Regions from separate parts of the Homo sapiens genome. Here region 2 is linked to region 1. Evidence: fine-mapped expression QTL. Tissue or cell type: esophagus mucosa. Region 1 holds a variant in brackets; the other region holds the start of a gene. All regions are shown on one strand. Distances are between the middles of the regions.

Region 1 (11,073 bases):
CCTCATGGCACTACGTCTGCTGCAAACCTAAGGGGTCCCCTTTCACCAAGAGGAATCTGGGTTCCCAGTTATGTCCTAGTCACGCCCGCTGCAGACCCTCACAGTGTGACTCTCAGGTCCTGTACCCAAGATGCTATTTAACTCCATTCCACCAAGTTCACTTCCTGTCTCCACATCACCTCCTCCAAGAAGTCCTCCCTGAGCCCTCAGGCTTGGTTGGCTCTGTCCTCTGTGCTCTGCCGTGACAGAGCGGAACACCCTGTGTGCTAATGAACAGTTTCCTTTTTTTTTTTTTGAGACAAAGTCTCACTTTGTCACCCAGGCTGGAGTGCAGTGGTGTGATGTGAGCTCACTGCAACCTACATCCCTGGGGTTCAAGCGATTCTTATGCCTCAGCCTCCCGAGTAGCTGGGATTACAGGCATGCACCACCATGCTACGCTAATTTTTGTATTTTTAGTAGAGATGGGATTTCATCATCTTTGCCAGGCTGGTCTCAAACTCCTGGCCTCCCGTAAACTTTTTGCTTTAAACTAAAGCACTTTTCATATTTTATTCTTAAATTCACCCACCTCAGCCTCCGAAAGTGCTGGGATTACAGGCATAAGCCACCTCACTCGGCCATAATGATCAGTTTCTATGTGACCCTGCTCTGCCATGAGCTTCTGGGGACAGCGGCGGCTCGTCCTCATCTTTGTTCCCTCGTCCCCAGCACAGGTTCTTGCAGGTGGGAGGTTCTCAGTGAGTGCTCGCCATCAAAGGTGCCCACGAGGGAAGGAATGAGTTGCTCATAGAGTGGCTGAGGGCCTGGTGGCAAGCCCAGTGGAGTCGGCCAGGAGATCTTCGGAGGAGGGGCTTTCGCACATAGGGCGCTGTCTGAGACTGGGGTTGGGAGCCTATCCCTCTTCCCTCCCTGCCCCTCCCGCCTTGGGGATTAACAGAATCCTGAGATGGAGATGTGCTGGCACCCTGCTCCCTGCCTACCTGTCCTCCACCTGTCCATCCCTCCTCCCCTCCATCCATCGCGCATCCTCTCATCCAGAGTTTATCAAGGCATCTGTTATGGACCAGGCACATTACTAAGCCCCCAGAGGCTGAAAGTTTTGGGCCGCTCAGGATAGGACCCTGGGGCTTTTAGGCACCAAAACTCCATATTTCCTGCTTCTTCCTTGATTCCCCTGAAGATGGGTCTAGAGAGTTGGGGAGGTAGAGAAGGCAGCCCAGGCAGCATGGGTGGGTGGGGGTAGGGTACAGACCATGCCTGCTGGAGCCGCCCGCGTGTGCTGTAGATCCACTTTATTTCAGTTCAGGACAACAAAAGGGCAAACATGTCTCTAGGGAGAAAAACAAGGACATGATCCAGTTGGAGGAGAAAACTCACATGGAAGGAAAGTTAGGCCTCTTGTGTGCTGTCCAGACCAGGTGCAGGCGTAGGAAGGGGCACCACGGCTTCTCCAGAGAGACCTCCTCGCGCCTGTTCTCTCTCGCTTCCCTTGTTCCTCAGATGGCTCGCTTCCCTCTCTGCGCCCTCTGATTTCTGGTCAATGCAAAGCCTCTTGCTCCCCTGCCCCGAGGGGCCCGTGGCTGGTTACATGCAAGTTCAATCCCCAGGAGCCAGGGAGGGCCTGCTTGTTTCTGAGCAGACAGTGTGGGGTGTGGCATGGAGCTGCTGCTGGGGGAGGCTGCAGAGCAGCCTCAGACCTGCCCTCCCTGAGAGCTGCCACCTGGGTAGGGGCCGGGGTGGCTCTCCACCCTTCCCCACCGCAGTGCCTGCTGGGGCCAGGAGCAAGGGCCACGCAAAGGGCGGCAGAGATGGGGAATGAAGGGGAGAGAAGCATCGGGCAGAACAGTGGCTGCGAGCCTGGCTGACCGTGGAATTCCACAGGAGACTGAACACAGCCTCCTGGGCCTGCTTGGGGTTTCCGACTCAGTGGGTCTTGGCTGGGGTCAGCTTTGCTGTCTGCCCCAGGAGGCCATGGCCCTTGTTTGGTACCCACTTCCTAGGAGTCATGAGAGCCGAGCTGGCTCTGCCTGATTGGTAAGAATAAAGGGGAGAATGTCTGAGTAAGAGCAGGCGAGCCCTGGCTCCTCCAGGTCTCAGAGGAGCAGAAGCTGAAGATTTCTGGAAAGCACTTGCCCTTAGGGTGGAGAATCGAGGCTCCCTCCACCTCACCTCCAGCACCACAAGCAGGGCCTGAGGGTGGTGCACAGCAGAGGAGGTCCCTCATGGCCTGAGCTGGGTGGAGAAAGCACAGGACCAGGCAGATGGGCCTTCTTGGAGCAGTCCCTGCCACTGCGTCTCTGCTCCCCATCACTACCCTTGAAACATGCCACTTTCTCCCCAGAGAACAGCAGGATCAATCCTGTTATCCCTGCGCCATCCTATATCACCTTCCTCATGGGACATTTGGAGGGGACAAGAGGATAGGACCATGAGTATGACCATCCTCAATCTAGACCCAGCCTGCCTGTCCCTTCCCTGCTGTGTGGCCTTGGGCAGACACTCAGCTTCTCTGGACCACTGTTTCCTCATCCAACAAACGAGCCCTGCAGAGATCCTTCCCCTGGGACTGGGCTCTGAGCTCAGAGGATGCTCTGTCCTGCAGCCTTCCAGCAGGGAACCTTCCAGCAGGGAGCCTTCCTGGCTTTCATAGTTTCTCCTCGCCTCGGCTGGGTGCCTGGGATTCTGCCAGACCTCAGACTCCAGACTGTGGGAATGGTCACCTTGCGGGGACCTGCCCCTCCAGCACCCAGGGCCATTCTGCTATTTTTATCTGCCATTGGTTAATCTGTATCATTGTGTAGGCCAGCCTCTCGGTGCAGTTTTGCCGCAGCGTGTTACCAACATGAGCTCAGATGGTGACCTCACATAGTGACCTCAGTCCAGTGGAACTGCCCGCCAGGCGGACAGGCACACGGAATTTCAGTTTCCAGTAAAGAGCATATTCTCATTATTTTCAGGAACCTTAAAATGGCTAATAGACATCATCAGCAGGGATTGAATGCCTGTTAAAGTAATTATTAAAGTAAAATCAAGTGTGTTTACTTACTGGCGGTATCACTTACAGTGACGTACACAGATCCTGAGCATTCAGCTCCATGCGTGTTTACTTATCCAGCCCGTAACTACCGCCTGGATCAAAACTAAAGTACTCCTACACCCCAGAAGCTTCCATCCTGCCCCGTCCTGGTTTCTTACAGCAGGGTCTGGCCCAGAGCAGGACCTCCTCAGCCAGTCGGCAAGTGCACTGTAATGGGACCTGGGGTGGCAGAGTCGGAGCCGGGGAGGTGGGCAAGTCCCAGAGAGGCTTCCTGAAAGAGGGGGGCTGCTCCACAGAACCCAAGTGTTAACTAGAACAATGGTGGTTTTACCATGCAAAGGAAACAATAAGGCACTTACCAAAGCTGCTTTCTGCCCTCCTGAGTCCTAGCCCTGAGGTTTGTGGCTCAAGACCAGGTCCATCCCCATTTCTGAGTGGCTGTGGAGTGTGGTTCTCTGAGCCTGGCCCCCAAGTGCTGAGACCCTGAGACCAGGCAGCTGTCTCTACCTTCCGAATGGGAGTGTGATCTCTGGCCTGTGACCGCATGGCAGACTCAAGGCCTGAAGGCGTCTAAGAGCTGGGGTTGTCTGGCAGCTGGTGCCCGGTCCTGGCAGCCGCCTGCTCCTCCTGACAGTGGTCATTTCTTGAACACAGGGCACAGCTGCCCACAGTAGCGGGGGCCTTACCACTCTGTCATTGGGGAAACCTGCTTCTCAACCACCTTCGCTGGCCTGCTTTTCTCCCCTGGGATGGAGGACCTGTCCTTCCCTTGGCCGTGTGACCATCTGTTAGAGATTTCAGAAAGACTTCAGCTCCACCTGCCTGGACTGCTCTGGGTGGCCCCCTCCAGGACTTCCCTGGTCCCTCTGGCCTGGTCTTTTCTGGCCCATGGCATCCAGCCCCTCCACTGCAGGGCCCAGCGCCTGTGTCGGTCTGACCGGACCACCTGGACACTTGTGGGAAATCCTCACCTTGTGCTTTGTCTGTGATTCTCCAGCTCCAAGAAGCCCAAGAAACATCCCAAAGTGGCCGTGAAAGCCAAGCCCTCGCCCCGGCTCACCATCTTTGACGAGGAGGTGGACCCTGATGAGGGGCTCTTTGGCCCGGGCAGGAAGCTGTCTCCACAGGACCCCTCGGAGGACGTGTCATCCGTGGACCGTAAGTAGAGCCCCATGGTCTGCTCCTGGTGTCCTCTCGGTGCCCAGCCCCATCACCAGGCAGGGTCTGGACTCACCCGGCGTGAATAGGACCCATATATCTCCCCTGTCCTGTTTAGATGTGATATAGACTCAGCTTTGTGCTTCCATGACATCTGTGGGCAGATGTGGGCCCTGGGCTTCCAGGCACTGTTTGTGTGGTAAGCGATAGGGCCTGCCTAGGGCACATGTGTGACTGTAGGTTTGGATTTAATGGGACTCTGTGTCGCCTGCATGGACTCTGCTGGAGGGCTCTGTGCAGAGTTGGCAGAGGGAAAACCGAGCGGCCTTGGGACATCTCCACTCATCCCTTGGTCCCTTTCCTCACATGCCCAGGTCGTCCTCCGGTGAGGGGAATTGATGCCACCCACTAATTCAGCCCATACTTGGTGAGCCCTCACTGAGGGCCAGGCCCAAGAACATGCTGAGGAGTGAGACCTAGTCCCTGTCCCTAGTCCCTATCCCGAGGGCCCCGGGGGCCCCTGGGGAGACAGGTCATTGCCTGACAGTTACAAAGCAGCACCAGTTATGACAGGTTGAGCAGAGGCATCAATTCCTGTAGGACTGCCCAGAAGACTTCCTGGGGTGGGGCAGAGAGAGAGCAGCCATGGCATCCCAGCCTAGAGGCTTCCTCTGACCCCCCTGCTGCTGCCTTCCCACAGCCCTGAAGCTATTTGATGATCCTGACCTCGGCGGGGCCATCCCCCTGGGTGACTCCCTCCTGCTGCCAGCCGCCTGTGAGAGTGGAGGGCCCACACCCAGCCTCAGCCACAGGGACGCCTCCAAGGAACTGTTCAGGTACCACCTGTCCCCAGCGGCGCTTGGCCAGCTCTGAGAGTGTTCTGGACAGAGCCAAGGGCCCGGCTCATTGCCCAGTCTCAGCCCCAGCCTCCTCTGAGGGGAGGACCCCAGGCCTGTGAAAAGTAGAAGCCTGTGGGTGCACATTGGGTGAGAGGCGGTGAAGGGGGCTGAGGGGGAGGATCCGCAGCCCAGGGCTGCTCAGCTAGTTCCAGAAAGAGAGAACTTTGTGTGCACAACCAGTCTTTCTTTTCACAATCATATTTTAACAGTTTATGTAAAGAATAATTAAATTATATAATTGCAAGAGCAGGTATAACTGGCATAAGCAAGTTTGGGAACAAATTAAACGGACTCATGGCAGCATGCAGCCCACCCAGCGAGGGGGCAAAGTGCAGATGTCTTGGTGATGGCCTCTCTGCCGGAGGGCCCGGTCGGCAGCTTTCACAGAAGGAAGGGAGAATGAGGCCTCAGCTGTCACATGGAGGTCAATTGGCAGAACCTGTGCCGGTGACAGCTCCTATTTCCTGAGTCCTTGCTGTGTACGCAGTAAGCCAGACTCCTTACACGCTCTCTTATGTAATCTTCACGACAGCCCCCTAAGGTGGATGCTATTTTCTCCATATTATAAGAAATCAAGTGTGGGACGCCACCTGGCTAAGACCCCTGCTCTGCCCCTGGCCTGGCCTCTCCACTTCATCAGGGACTGTCTGAGCACTTGGCTGGGTGATCTGCCTCCCCACCCAGCCCCCCAGTTCTCCCCAGGCCTTTACCTCCACTGGCCACATTCTCAGCAGACTCAGTGTTGTGCGTGTCTCCAGCTCCCACTCCATGCTCCAGGACACAGGACTGTGCCTGGGATTCAGAGGAAGCCAGGCCGCCTCTTTCCAGGAACGGCTTATGTGACACCAAGGCATGCAGGCCCTGGAGGCTGTCATCTGTACCCCTCATTAGCAGCCTCGGGCTATTAGACAGCCCTGCAAGTGCCCGCCAAGCCTGAGTCACCGTGACGGCTTCTGGTATTTACATGTCCCCAAGGCCCCTGGCATCTGTTCACTCTCATCCTGTGTCCTCGCTCCTGACATCCCAGCGGGCTGGAAGAAACCAGGATTGTTATTTTATTAGAGGGAAACCGAGGCACAGGGAAATGAAATACTAGAGTCTGCCTG[C/G]GGAGCAGCAGGGCCAGGCCGAGCATGTCTAGGAGTCCATGTGTCCCAGTGGGGTGGCTCTCGTGGGACCTTTCTGGCCTAGTTTATTCTAAATCCGTTACTTCCCAACCTGTGTTCTGCAGAACGTGGTACAGTGGGGTGGTCAAAGGCTATCTTCAAAGGGGCTCTGTGGCTGATGAATTGGGGAAATGCCACAAAAAGCAGGGCTCGTAGTGCGCGGGCCAGCACCACATGGCACTTCACGTTCTCATTCATCCCTGGGCCCCCCACTCTGTGGTGCCCCTTAGCATCCCGCAGAGCGCTTGGGGAGTCCCTGCTCAAAAAGTGTGGGTCCCGCACCCCCACCTTCACTTTAGCAGACATCTGCTAATGAAAGGATTAACTGCTTTTCTTTTTTTTAAATTCAGACAAATTCAAAAAGAGCCGTAACACTGGGATTAGCTTCTTGAGAGCAGGAACCACATTCATTCTTTGTGTCTGCCCTGTGACTATCCAGGGAGTAGTTGGACTTCCTCATAATAAAGAATGTTCTGATAGCCATTCATTCATTCATGCTTTCACCCCTTCGTTCATTCTGTCACTAGCCTCAGCCACCCTGAGGCCGCGTGGGGTGTACACTGAGCGGGTCGAGGCTAAGAAGGCTTTGTTCCTTCTGGCTGTGCAGCCACACCAGGGCAGGGCCTCTAGTCTAGATGTTTAGGTGAGTCTTGTCTTCCGCAGGAACCCAGGGAGAAGGAATGGGGCCAGGGTCTTAGAGCTCCCTTACCCCCCACTGGTTGACCTCACACCAGCTGGGCCTGGAGGAGAAAAGAGCTGGACCTTGCGCTAGTGAGAGCTAGTCCTAGTCATGACTCAGAAATAGGGTGCTTGGAAAAGGGGTGCCTTGCAGCCTCCTGTGTCCCAAGAGCAGCTATGCTGCCTCCCACCGTGGCTGACCACCCGTGTACACCACCCACCTGGGAGCAAATCCAGCTGCTGATTAGTTCCAAAGAGTCACTGCTTTGCCAAGCAGGCTAATCCTGAAATCTGACATAAGCCTCTAGCGGCTGCTTTATTTTCCAAAGGGCCCCTATTTGAGGATAATTCAGTCCCTTTGAGCTTTTCCCAGGTACCCTCAGCCTTCAATGGAGGCTGCATCATGCCAGTGGAGCTGGCACCTGCCCTGGGGGAGTCAAGGAAGGGCTGCCACTTGGAGGGAGCTCCGGAACATCTGACCTGAGGTGGCCAGGAGCAGACTGGCCATGAGTGACACCTCCTGAAATCACCTCTACCCCAAGACAGCTGGTCTGTCTATGAAGGCCCGGCTTGGGCCAGTCCCTCTGGGTTTGTTCAAGAAGGACACCTTTTATTCATTTCTCTGCCATCCAAACAGACTCTGAATTCTCTCTCTGGGGTTTGTGCCCCATCACAGGAGGTTGAGCCAGGAAGCAGGCAGGGTGTCCGGAGCTCCTTCCACAGCTGGCTCCAGGCAGGCATCCACCCCTGGGGGTGCTGTGCTGGACACCTCCATACTCACACAGGCTCTCTGGTAGTGCCAGGAGTTGTCCTGATCAGAGGTATCGCCTCTCTATCCCCACCCCTGCCCGGCCCTGCCCCAGGGCAAGAAGCCGCTGCTCATGAGCCTGCCTGGTTCTTCCTGTTCATTCTCATTCCCACCTCCAGACCTCTGCTGTCTGCTCCCTTCTTCAGAATTCTCTCCCCTATTCATGCCAGGCTCACCCTTCTGAAAAGACCCACCTTCCCAGGAGGCCTTCCCAGCCTGCTCTGGCCCAAGGGCTCACTCCCTTCTCTGGACTTCAACACCTTCTTTCCAGGCCTTTGCAATTATGTGGCCCCTGTCTGACTGGGCTGGGGGGTGTCCCTCATTGTAGGTGGAGGCACTGCTTTTCTGTGTCTTATGCCCACTTGCTCAGCCCCTGTGGCTGTCAGTAGACATCAGTACATACAGCCTTCCTGTACATTTGGAAACTACTTTCCTTGTGTTGTCTTATTTGATCCTTGTAAGAATCCCTGTGAGGATGGTAGAGCAAGTACAATCCCACTTTATAGAAGAGACTGAGGACCAGGGAGGAGGAGTGGCCTGAGGCTGCCTGATGGAGGAGTTGCAGGGTGAGGAACGGAAGCCAGTTCTCCTCCTGCAGTGCTGTGCTTCTGTGTACAGTTCCGTGCAGCAGTGCCAGTGACACTGTTACTCCTGCTTGTAGATGAGGAAGCCGAAGCTTGTAGAGACCAAGTGGGTGCTACAGGTCTTCTGCCTTCACTCACCTGATTCCAGCATGGCTGAGCGATAGACGTAGAGATGCCCGTTAGCACAAGGGAAAACCTCGCCGTGACACTGGAGTCTAGGTGCCCCAGCCAGGGGAACACACCCCAGAGAACCAGCCACATGCAGGCCAAGTCCTGTTCATCCTCACACTAGCTGTGGGTCTCAGGGCAAGGCCCTTTGCCTCTCTGCACCTCAGTATTCTCAGCTGTAAAACGGGGCTAATCTCTGCGACCACACAGTGTTTGGAGATTATTGAATGGGTTAATGAATGTGGAAATGTCTGGCCATCACGGGTGTTCAGCACAGAGCTGAGTGGGTGGAATGGATTGAATGAGTCTTCCACTGTGCATCTGGTCTCCAGAAATCAAGTTCTGGAGAATCAGTGGCCTGGCCTGTTTCTTGCCCTCAGTACCCAGGGATGGTCCTGAGTGACCGTAACACTGCCAGGGCTTTTTGCCCACCCACCAGTGGGAGATTAGAGGTCTGGGGTCATGACAGAGTCTTGGTGGGCCCTGGCCGAGGCCATCCTCAGCTCTCACTGGGTTCCGTCTGGCACCCGTGTGGCCCACAGCGGGGCACTGTGGGCGGGCCAAGCCTGTACCACCATGGCTCAGCGCCCCTGGTTATTCTTTCTCTGGCTGAACTTGCTTTGGATGAGGGCTCAGCTTCTAAGGGCCGATGTCCTGTTCCTTCCAACAAAGGCACTGTCACATACCATCCCCTCGAGGTCACTCGGCCTCCTGGGACTCCAGCGTCCTCATCTGCGTGATGGAAGCACAGTCATGCCTCCCCAGAGTGGCGTTTTGAGGATAAGATATGATAACGTGTCTGAAGTGCTGTACAGAGCGGGAACTCTGTACATAGTAGCTGGTGGTTATTTCTGAAGGGATTGGAGGGAAAGCCCCCTACAGAAGGCAGCGTGTGTCAAGTGGGGTCACCTGAAGAGCAACTCTCAGGAGGCTGCGTGGGGCCTGCCCTGTGCCTGCTTTGCTGTGGGTGGGAGGGAAGGAGAGCCCTGGCCTTCGTGTCTCCTCTGGGCAGGATGGGTGGAGGGGCCAGAGTGGAATGGGGCAGAGCAGGGCGGGGCCTTGACCTGGCCGAGGCTGGGCTCCCTGCCGCTGCCCAGCCCCGTGTGGGCACTGGCATTGCCTGGGGTCTTGTTCCTGTCACGGGGTGGCAGTGTTATGCTCAGGGTTCCTCCCTGTGGTTCCCTAGAGTTGAAGAGGACTTGGACCAGATTCTGAACCTGGGAGCTGAGCCCAAACCCAAGCCCCAGCTTAAGCCCAAGCCACCAGTGGCAGCTAAGCCGGTGATACCCAGAAAACCAGCTGTTCCCCCCAAAGCGGGCCCGGCTGAAGCTGTGGCTGGGCAGCAGAAGCCGCAGGAGCAGATCCAAGCCATGGACGAGATGGACATCTTGCAGTACATCCAGGACCACGATACACCAGCCCAGGCCGCCCCCAGCCTCTTCTGACCCTTCCATGCTGGCCCCTGGCCCAGCAGGCCTGTCTGTGGGGACATCGGTGTGAAGGGAAGGGACTGGGCCCTGCAGGGTCAGAACCTCCCCACCCCCAGGGGAGGCCAGGCAGAAGCCTGGGTCACAGCACCCAGAACTGCATGGTTCCATTTTCTCCGGGGCTGTGGGGCCAAAGTAGAAGCCTGCGGGCTGCGGGAGCGGCTCTCACCCTAGGAGCCAGAGCCCAATGTGTCTTATTCCCCGTGGACATGAAGGGGAGGGAGGGTGTGGGGATGCCTTGCCAACCAGAAGCCCAGCCCCAAGGATGAAGCAAGACATGTGGGGCCGTAGCGAGGTGTCACATGGGGCAGGGAAGCTTCATGCCCACGGGTTCTGCCAGCCCCAGCACAGACCCAAACTGGGGCTGGGCCTCTATCCCTCCTCTGCCTCTGTTCGCATAGTAAGAAGGAGTGACCGGTATCCTCCCCTTCCCCTACCCTAAGCTGTAGCCTGGGTGACTGACTGGCCTGGGCCTGGGGTGGGGACGTCCCCAAGCCAAATTACTCCAGGGCCTCTGCTCCTCGTGGCTGCCAGGGGCCTGCAGGGTCTGGGTGGGTCTCCCAGGAGAGGAATACTGAGTGGGAGATCGGCTGTCTGGAGTGTTCTGATGCAAGTCTCTCTCTCCTGAGCCTCCTCTTGATGCAAGCTCTAAAGGGAGAAGTCAGGCCCTGCCTCTCCAGGGTATAGACGGCCCTGCTAGGCCCCAGTTCTTCCTCCTTCCCCCTTTCCCAGGAAAGGCCAGCCCAGTCCATGGCCTTCTTGGGCCTCTGGGCACAGAGCCAATGTTCGTCATTGCAGCTCTCAGCAAACTGGGTCATAGCTTTCCCCACAGCTCAGCCTGGGGCCTGGGCAGGGCTCCCAGCCTGCACCGCCTCCCACTGCCAGTGGGGCATGATTCTCTCAGGCTTCTGCCCCGAGGCCTTCGTCGTCCTCAGGGTCTGGACTTGGTCAGTGGCCTTTCACCAGTGGAGCTGCCTTCCCAGGGAGAAGGAGCCGTGCGCCAGGGCAGGGCCCGTGCCTTAGACTTCTCCCGACCCCCAGAGCGCTGGTACACAGGTCTAGGCACCACACAGTGCTTTGGAAATTCT
Region 2 (10,256 bases), 28 kb before region 1:
ATTCTGTATTATTTAAAAAAAAAGACTTATGTATAGGCATAGAAAAAAATGTCAGGAGAGAAGGAACAAAAAATTAGTACAATTGTTATATCTGGTATAGAATGAGAGGCGATTTTTATTTTTTAATTTTACTATCCCTATTTTCCAGCTTTTCTACCATGAGCATGAATTATTTCTACAGAATGGTTCCAAAAATTGTCTGCTTGTCCCCCTCTGGAAGAGGGGGCCCTACTCCCTTCTCCCCTTCCCACCTCCTGTCCCCTCCTCCACCCACTGGGACACTGCCCTCCTCGAGGCCAGAGAACACTTTTCTCTCTTCAAAGATTCTCTTCTTGACCAAACTGAGCTTTGAGCTCCTGAACCTTCTCTTAGACCTATGCATGCACTTCCTTGTAAAATCCAGTTTTAGGAAGAACGTGGCTAAGTCAGGTTACCAACATCCTCCCACCCTGCCTATCTGATCACCCTCGATATCCAACTGGGTTCCCCCTCCTCCACCATCCCCAGGTGATGTCTGACCATCCTGGCCCATCTTCAGCAAGAATCCTGTTAGGTCGGCATAGCCAGAGTCCCCCCATACTCGTCTTAGTAATGTTCCAGCCACCACTCCCACCCTGTTCCTTGGCTATAAATTCCTACTTTCTCATGCTGCATTCGGAATTTAGCCTAGTTCTATACTGGGGTCTCTTACCCCTATTGCAGTAGTCCCAAATAAAATCTGCTTTCACCACTTTAACTACTGTTCAGTTCTGTGGGGTTTTTTTGTTTGTTTTTCTTGAACACCTCCTTATCTTCCTGGATGTTCAGCAGTGTTTGGCATTGCTGATCACACCCCAGTCTCTTCCTGAAACACTCTTTTCCCTTTGTTCTGTGAGCCCACTCCCTCCTTCTTCAGGATAAGATGTGAGCTCCTTTGCATAGCGCACAAGGCCCTCTATGCTGCGGGAACACAGGCTCCTCTTGCCCTCTGCTGCCTCCTCTCCCAGCAATCCTTCCACATATTCTTCTCACCAGCTCCTCAGATACGCTCTGGTTCTATCAAGACGTACTAGGCTGAGCATGGTGGCTCACACCTGTAATCCTAGCACTTTGGGAGGCTCAGCAGGGCAGATTGCTCGAGCCCAGGAGTTCAAGGCCAGTCTGGGCAACATAGGGAAACCCTGTCTCTACAAAAAACACAAAAATTAGCTGGGCATGGTGGCACACACCTGTGATCCCAGCTACTTGGGAGGCTGAGGTGGGAGGATCACCTAAGCCCAAGGAGGTTGAGGCTACAGTGAGCTGTGATCATGCCACTGCGACAGAATGAGACCCTGTCTCAAAAAAAAAAAAAAAAAAAAAAAAAGACAAGCTGCCTTCCTAGTACACATTTTACCTCTTTTCTTCCTCCTCCTCAGTCATCCCTGCATCCCCTATGGAGCAGTTTTTATGTCAGGCATTATGTAAGTACTTTACAACTACACCAACAGGAAATCCACTGCAGAAAACCCCCACTTAGAGTGATTTAGGCATTTATGCAAGGAGAACTTTGTAGAAAAAGTCCAGGGCGTGTATGCAAGCTCATATGCCATCAGCTCCCCAGGCTTGTTCATCCCTAACATGGTAGACTCCAAACTCATGTCTGTGCCTCCTGCTCCCATGATGGCTGCTGTGTCTCCAACACTGTATCCCCTTCCCAGGTAGAAGACAAGGAAGGAGCGAAGAGTTTTCTCCTAGCAAGATAAATCCTCCACAGGGACTTAAGTATATGTGGTCAGTTATGTCACATGGCCCCTTGTAACTGAAATGGGACATGTGTTTTACTTCTCCAGCCTCTATGGTAATAAAAACCAGGAAGAAGGGGGTTGTGAATGGCTTCCGGTTAGCTCATCACCAATGCCTGCCATACATTTCATCTTGTTTCAGTCTCATTTTACCTCATGTAATTCAAGCAATGTTATGATTTAAAGGTTTCTGTTACGTGCATTTCACCAGTGAGAAAATCAAGTCTCAAAAAAATAATACCTACTTTTTACAACCCAGGTCTGCCATCACCTCCTCCTGGCAGAATTCTTTGTATGCCCAACCCTAGGCTGAGTTAGTTATGTGCCCTCCTCTGTGCACCATAGCACCCTAGGCGTGCATCCTTGTTGAAATCTCCAGCTGTCCTAGAGTGGCCTGTGAGCCCCTGCAGTGGGCTGTGAGCCCCACAGGATAAGGCTCTGTAGCCCCCAGGCCTGGGGAGATAACAGGCCTGGAGCTGTACCTATGAGTGTTTGCTGAGTGACAAGCAAGGTGGTGGCCCTGCTCCATGTGGATGTGCCCAGACCCTGGAGCTCTAAAGTATCACATTAGGGAACAGAGACAAATTATAAGGTCCCAGAAGACCCGAGCCACCATGGGAAACGTTGGTGCATGGCTCAGCCAGAGTTCAGAGCACCCCCTGCAGGCTGCGGGTGTCTCTCAGTGACCACAGTGTCCTGAGGCCCAGTGACTTCCTGGGTGGAAACTGAGGCCTGGAGTGTTCCTCCCAGGGCAGTGAGAAAGAGAGAAATAGAAAATCCTTTGCAATGTGGTTTGTGTTACCGCAGCTTCAGCCATGGAAGGGGCTCCTTGAATTAAACAGGAAGCAGAAAATATCAGATTTAGATCCCACATTCCATGCATTGTATACAATTACGCGCTGGAGCCATAGAGGGGCACGTGGGACCCACAGAGGCAGAAAATGGGATTGCTGTTGGGAATGGGGTCGTTCTTTCATGGGAAACCAGTTGCATTCTTGACAGGTGGGCCGAGTCTTCCTGAGGTGCACACTTCACAACCCCAGGGGCACAGGTGAGGCCCTCTCATTTGCTTACAAGGCATTGGTGACAGACATGCTACCAGCTCCCACAATGATGGAGAGTCCCCTTCTCTGCAGCCCCCCAACACCGCTGCATATCTCTGGATTGTAGACCATCCTTGGTGGGCTCACCCCAACTCTCAGGCTCAACAGCCTCCTTTTTACCCATGACTCCTATGTCAGTCTCCAGCCCAGGTCGGCTTCCTGAGGCCCAGGGCCATAAACCCAATCGCATCAATAGGTCCAGCCCTTCAAACACTGCCTGTCTGAAACAGAACCCATCATCCTACCAAAAATATGCTCCTTCTCCAGGTGCCCTGCCACAGAGAATGATACCAATGTCCAGCCACTCACAAGAGCCAAACCATAGTGGTATCTTATCTCTTCCCGCCCACACCCATTGGATTCCCAAGTCTTGACCAACTCCTTCTCCTAAGGCCCTCTTACCCGTCCCCTCTTCTCCACCTGGGTGGCCATCACCCTAGTTCATGGGACCATTGTCTCTTGTCTGGATTGTTCTGCAGTCCAGCTCATCTTCATACCTTCAACATGCTCCAAAACCCTGCCCACGCCCTAGCTGGCCCAGCCACTCCTATGTCCCTGACCCTCTGATGGCGCTGTGTTGGCCTCAGGATCAGGCAAAGCCCTGGCCTTGGTGCACTAGGCTGTCCACACCCTGGCTCCTGCTGGCCTCTTCCCCCTGTTCCCTGGTGTTCCTATCCTGTCGCTAGGGCTTTGCACGTGACATTCCTTCTAATCTATTCTATCCATATTTCTTCAGGTTTTCCCTTGGACTTCAGCTCCTTTAGAAAGCCTTTCCAGACCCCCACCCACTCCCCATGTAGGAGGGCAAAGAAGTCCACTGAAGGCATCTAAAGTGTCTTATTCACTGTGTTTCTGTCTGTTGGATAAATGTGAGTGCAATGGTGACTGCTCGACTGCCTGGCACTACACTCAGACTCCTGGAATGCTGAAGCCTATACTGCTTTCTGTCCAGACCCTGAACTCCCTTTCTCTAAAGTAGGGCATGCCAATTTAAACAAAACACGGAGGACCATTTGCAGCCATGAACACGGCCCTGCAGACGGACAGGCCGATGAGCAGCAGAGCAGACAGGGGTTCCCGCCATCATCCCAGCTCTTCACTGCAGCCTTCAAGGGTCTCCCTCAGAACTTTCATTCATTGTCATACTTCATTCATGATTGCTCATCTTGCCTATAAACAAATCTGAGACAAATAATAAGGCATATCAATGTCCGTATTTATTCAAGAGATACATTGGGGAAAGTCATTTTTCAAAATCTTTTACTGTAGGATTTCTTCACTAAAATCTGTAAAAACTGGTAGATATTGTTGGTGATGCTGGTGGCGGTGGTTGATAGGCTCAGGAAACATGGCTGACATCGCCCTGCCGTGAATTCTGGTATAGTTAAGCCCAGCTTCTCTTTCTTTTTGTCACTGGGGCTCTGGGTGGAGGGAGTAACAGAACAGGGGCAGCAGTTTGCACCTTCTGCTGGCCCTGTTTGCAGACTCAGCTTTTCTTTCCCTGGGCTACGTTGGCAGGTGATACGATCTCTCTGTTCCTCACCCCATGGAGAGGTGAATCTAAAATGAGTGGGTCTGTTAGGGTCTGCATGTCTGTACGTTCCCCTTCTGAGGGGAACTGGCTCCTGGACCCCGTTGCCCTGCTCCAGCTGGGGACCCAAGTGCAGCCATCCCAGGCAGGCCCGGCCCCGGGAGGCCTCCACCAGGGCTCTGCCAAGCAGCAGAGGCTGCCTCTCTAAAGATCCCCTGTCGGGAGAGTGCCTGCCATTTATGGAGCGGGCAGGCAGTAGGAACCAGATAGGCGAGCTAGCTGGAGGCAGCAAGCTCAAGGGGACTGGGCTGCTGCGTGGCGTTCACTGTGCAGCTTGAAGAAGACCCCACGAAGCCTGGACAGAGCCCCAGCTTGGTAAATATTTGTTGACCGATCGGTTGAATGAAATGGTCTTGGGGCAGAGGGGGAGTGGTTTTGTAATGGGGACTGGCGGCGGAAACAGCAGAGTCCCGTCTCTCTAACGGCTAAACTTTAGCGCAAAACAGACACACCGATTAAGGTTCACCGTGTGCCAGGGCCAGGCTGGGCTTCTTCTAGGTGGTTGCGGCGGGCGCGGCTCAGCCTGGGTGCTCCGGAAGCTCCGAGCAGCGCAGGCCGACGGCGACCGTGCGGGACCCGCCCAGCCGCGCTTCCGCCCCGCCTCTGGCCACAGGCGCGAACTGCGCGGCCGCTGCCACCAGGGGGCAGGCCAGGGCAGCGGGAGGCAGGGCGGGGACGCGGTGACGCGGGCACTGCCGGGTCCCGTGACTGCGCGCCCCGCCCGGAGTCCCCGCCGCCGTCATGCAGTCCCCGGCGGTGCTCGTCACCTCCAGGTGAGCCAGACCCCCGCGCCCCACACCGCACAGCTCGCAGTCCGGGGCGCCCGGGCGGAGAGGCGGGGGGAGGCCGCCGCCTCCTAGGCCAGGGACCTGGTGCAGGTCTCCCCAGCGCCCTCGGTGGCTTATCCGGGCTGGGCCCCTGCACCGCCCTGCAGGAGAGGTGGCGACCCCGATTTACAGATGAGGAAACCGAGGCCCTCTGGAGGGTAGAGAACTAGCCAAGGACAGCGGGAGCCCTGGGACTGACTGGTTCAGTGCAGGCGGGCGCAGTGGGGACTCTGCTCTCCTTTCCTACCGCCTTGGGTTCTTCTCTTTTGAGCCCGAAAATCTAGTTCCCCATCCTTTCAGAGCTCCCTGAGTCCCAGGCCCGGTGCTGGGCACTGGGGACAGAGGCGAATCAGACAAGCTCGCCCTGCAGGGGGCTGCAGCGGAGAGGGGGTGATGCCAGCAGCGGGTAGTAAGCTCAGGTTGCCATGGGAACACAGTACAGGGCAGGAACCCGGTTTCTGGGAGGATGAGTTTGATGAGAGACCAGGGAGAGGTCGTTGCTGCTTGCGAGGCAGCTCAGGAGAGCGCAAGTTACAGCAAAAGCCTTGGAGGGGTCCAGGCGGAGGATGCAGAATGGGTCGGCCCTGATCGAGACCTGGAGGACCCAGCCCAAGGTGGATCCTGGCAAGGCTGGGAGGCACGTGCTTTTACTTCTTTCCGCCTTTAAAACGCTGTAAAGTGATTTACTTCAAATATTTTCATACACTTCACCCTTGCTCTCCCTACACAAAGTCTTAGGCTAAGATGCCAATTTATGACATAAATGAACGTGTTACCCAGCCAACTGTTGATCTTCCAGTTGTAATCAGGAATTCCCCGTGACTTCAGGTCTAGAAAGGTATGATTCCTTTTGTAAACCCTGATGTCGGAGGCTGCTTGGTCTTTCATGATCAAGTGTGGTTACAGTTGTATCTTCATGGGCAGAAGAGGTTTCCCTACTGCCACTTACGTCACCTCCTCTCACCAAGCCTCAGTTTCCTTTTCTGTGAATTGGAGGTTTCAGATTGGCAGGCATGAGCAACGTCAGTAGTATATGCCCCTCAGCCATGTGCAGATGGATGGGGTGTGACTTTGGTGCTGGGTGCTTGGGATGGGGTGGGTGGCTTCCCTCCCTGCCCCGCTGCACAGCCTGGACGTGGCTTGTTAACAGATGTGGGGGCGCTGGCGGTGGTAAGGCCACATGAGTCAGGCTCATTTCTTGCTGAGGGCACCAGCACACCCAAGGATCTTGCCTGCAGGGTGAGTCCAAACGCCTTAGCCCAGCAGCAAGGCCGGCCCTTCCCAGTCGCACCCCAGCTCCTCTTTCCAGCCCGATCTCCTCCCACATGTCATTGCCACATGCACTCAAGCTTGAATTCAGCCAGAAGGTGTTTATCGAGAGCCTTCTCTGTACCGGGTACTGGCCCTAGTTCTAGGAGACAAACAAGTCCCTCTCGTAGAGCTTTAATGAGGGCACAGGCCCAGTGGGCAAATCTACGACATGTCAGGGATGATACATGCTATGAAGGAAAACAAAACAGTGGGGGCAACAGAGTGGTAGGAGGCATGCATGCTGTTTTCTATGGTGTGGTAAAGAGGCATCTTTCTGATGGAGTGGCGCCTGGACAGATCCCGGACAAGCTCCATGAGGGAGAGAGCCATGAAAAAGAAATCTTGGAAAAGTGTGTACTGGGAGGACAGGACAGCAGGAGCCAGGGTCCCGAGGCTGGTATGCTGGAGTGGAGTGAGCCCAGGGAGAGTGTTAGGTGATGCGGTGAAGAGGCAAGCTTGGGAGTGAAGGATGATCAGGAAAGGCCGAGAAGGCTGTGGAGGGGCCATCAGATTTAATTTCAAGTGCAATAGGGCCCAACTTCTGGTTTATAGAGATCCTTTGGCTGCTATGCTGAGCATGGGCAGTGGCCGAGCTGAGCATTCAGGACAGGCTTGTAGGTTTCCATGTAGAGCCGGTGGTGGCTTGGCCCGGGGTGATGGCGGCCGTGAGGGTGAGAAATGTTTGGGTTCTCGATATATTTTGAAGATTGAGCTTTCAGGTTTGCTGATGCTTGGATATGGGGTGTGAGAACAAGAAGAGAAGTTAAGACTAACGGCAAGTCTCTCAGCCTAAGCTGCTGGAAGAATGAGGCTGCCCTTTAGCAGGCTTGGGGAGAGGTAGAAGCAGCATTTGTGTAGACAGGTGAGTTTTGAGAAGCTCGTTGACAGCCCAGTGGGGATGTCAGGCAGCTGCAGCTGGAAGGAGGCTGGCTGTGAGGGGAGAGTGAGCTAAAGATGGGAGTTGGGGAGCCATTGGCTCGGAAATGGTATTTAAAGCCTGGAGCCTGGATGAGATCACCTGGGGAGGGGTACAGTGAGAGGAAGAAGGAGGGTGCTCTGGATGCTATCAAGGGGAACCATCCAAAGCAGTTCCTCTCCTCCTGTTTGAGCAAGAGTGGCCAGGGTGGGCAGAGAAGAACCAAGAGTGAGGGGGTGCTCCAGCCACCAGTGAAGGCAGAGCTTGAAGGAGGGGAGTGGCTGACTGTGCCCACTGCTGCTGACAAGTCAGACCAGAGGAGAAATGAGGATTCACCTTTGGATTTAACCACATGGAGGTCGCAGATGACCTGGGCGTGGGCAGTTTGTTGCATGATGAGGACCAAAGTCTGGCTGGAAAGGGTTCAAGATCAAACAGGAGGAGAGGAACCCATGAATATGGGGCCCTCTGTTGAGGAGTTCTGCTGGAAAGGGCAGGAGGGAAACGGAGCAAGGGGAATGTCGGGTCAAAGCACAGCTTTTGTTACATGAGTGGTCAGAGCATGGTTGCATGCTAATAAGCGTGGGCCAGTAAGGAAGGAAAATCGATGGTGCGAAAAAGAGGGGTGAGCTGCAGCAGCTATGTCCTTCAGTAGGTGGGAGGGCCTCGGAGCCGCTGCCCTGGTAGAAGGTTGGCCTTAGGAGCAGCCAGCCAGTTTGTCTACAGTCCCAGGAGAGGGCAGCTATCAGGGAGCAGCTGCAGGCTGATGGGCAGATGTGACAGCGAAGCCTAGGATGTTCTCCGATGGTCTCTGGAGCAGTACACAGCAGTGTCCACATCACTTGGGAATTTGCTAGAGATGGTGAGGGCACACCCCGGGGCCTGCAGAACCAGAATCTGCATATTAACAGGATCCCCAGGGGGTTGCACGCACATTACAGTTGGAGAAGCTTGGTCTAGGGCACATCCTGCCCACCACACCCCCATTTGTTTATGTACTCTCCGTAGCAGCTGCAGCAGAGACCAGATACCCTACACAGCCTGAAATATTTGCTATCTGACCCTGTAGAGAAAGTTTTCCTATGGGTTCAGGGAAGTGGGAGGGTGATGGAGTAGGCCCAGGTGCATCAGACTCGTCGGAGGGCTTACTAAGAAAACAAGATGGCTGGCCACCCTAGGCCCGAACATGCCTTTCTTACAAGTTCCCAGGCGATGCTGATCCTGATCCAGGGACCACACTTTGAGAACCCCACATCTAGGGCAAGGTAGGGTTGCCAAGCCTGGTGTGGTGCTGTGCCTTCAAGTCTGCAGCCATGAATTTCAATGGGACCAGGCTGCATGTTTACACCATGTCTGTCCCCAGTCACGTTGAGCCACTTGGGCACAGGGTGAAGGAAGCAGAGAACTGGAGAAGTGGGCTTTGACCAGGCCAGCTCAGCTCTGGGTAAGAAGTCAGGGGAGCTGGGCCTAAGGCAGAGGGATTCCAGCAATGGAATGGGACCCTGGAAAAGGGGTGGGGTTATGGATTGTGGGTTCTGGCGTGGTCAGAGAACCATTGGATGTGGGGTGCTGTGAGGGAGCTGGATCGTGGGAGGTGCCCATCTGGGTCTGCTCCATCCCTTTCCCACCCCTGAGAGGACCTCCCCGCAGCTCAGGCACTGCCCTTCTTGTCACTTTCACCCCCCTGTGCCTCGTTTTCATCATGATCCTAAAGAAATGATGCCTGGCTTCTTTCTCATGCCTGCCCCATAAGAGGCCACCTGGGCTCTGGAGCAGCTGCCTGGGATTGAACGCAGCTCCACCTCATGCCGGGTGAGACCTGGGCAGGCACTTTCCCTTTAGGGGTCTGTTTCCCTGTATTTTAAGTGGGTCTGGGTAGCAGAGCTCCTTCGCAGGGTTGCAGGAGGCGGAAGTGACTTCACACAGGTGCATCCCTAGAGCCCAGCGCGTCTCCCCTCAGCATCCAGCCTCACCTTCCTCCTCCACACTGGTGGCAGTGACACCGTGGGTGACACCAGGCCGCGCGTGCACACTGCGTGAACTCGGTGCCGTTGGCAGAGGGCTGGCTGTGCGTGTGCACCTCCCAGTGCCCATTCGGCCCTTGCTGCACTTTTCACCACCTGAAGGCAGGTTGCCTGGGGTGCCCTACGCCGCGGGAGGATATTCCTTGTGTGTACAGCACTCAGTCATTGGGTGTCATACATGGCATAGGAGACGCATCACTGTAGGCCTCACCAGTTGGTGACAGCAGCGTTGTGCTGGTGACAGCGTGGCCTAGCGTGGGATGTGAGGGGTCCGTGTGGGAGGAGTGCTGGGGCAGGGGGATTTGATGGATTGGGGTATAATTCCAGAGAGGGAAGGGCCTTGCCCCAGACACAGGTTAAGCTCCAGAAGCTCCTCCCGTGTTTTCAGGGTCCTGCCCAGCACACAGGAGGTCTCACCTCGATGGTCAGAGCTGCTCAGAGGGTGCCCCACGTGTCCTGCCAGAGGTGTTTGCGTGAGGGATGTTAGTCTGCACAGGTCTGTGTCTCACCTTATGTAGGATGAGGGATGTATTTAATAACTTTTTCCACTTCAAGAAAAACATCTCATCACTTCTTTGCTCATCATACAATTCATTATATTCGAATTGCATTTTACAAATCTCCAAGAGCGGTGATGTTTTGCCGATGCATCCTCTCTACACCTCGAGGGGCAGCATCGACTGCCCAGATGAGGGACGGGCCTATCAGTGCCTCTCTGGGC

Which allele goes with the higher level. Alleles are on the strand shown, and positions count from the first base shown. SD is a standard deviation of normalised expression in the study named.
In carriers of allele G in region 1, the expression in esophagus mucosa of the gene that starts at base 5,164 in region 2 tends to be higher than with C alone (small effect, 0.16 SD a copy in GTEx).

What was found. PIP is the estimated chance that this variant, and not a neighbour inherited with it, causes the effect.
Region 2: it holds the start of HS1BP3, and the variant in region 1 is fine-mapped to the expression of HS1BP3 in esophagus mucosa (GTEx, PIP 0.92).

Annotation. Positions count from the first base shown.
Region 1 is chr2:20,617,857-20,628,929 of GRCh38, reverse strand. HS1BP3 (HCLS1 binding protein 3) reads left to right here. Exons shown (of 7, transcript NM_022460.4): 5 at 4,038-4,198; 6 at 4,899-5,034; 7 at 9,685-11,073. The coding sequence ends at 9,943. Among named protein-coding and RNA genes, the nearest start is that of HS1BP3, 28 kb to the left of the region's middle. RefSeq lists an enhancer at 10,722-10,831. The variant C/G (reference allele first, on the strand shown) is at 6,204.
Region 2 is chr2:20,646,006-20,656,261 of GRCh38, reverse strand. HS1BP3 (HCLS1 binding protein 3) reads left to right here and starts at 5,164. Exons shown (of 7, transcript NM_022460.4): 1 at 5,164-5,230. The coding sequence starts at 5,199. It overlaps LOC105373466 (a long non-coding RNA gene), which reads right to left and starts at 4,980. Exons shown (of 2, transcript XR_001739320.2): 1 at 4,910-4,980; 2 at 4,062-4,287. RefSeq lists enhancers at 4,746-5,483, 5,568-5,717, 5,738-5,817 and a silencer at 4,898-5,487.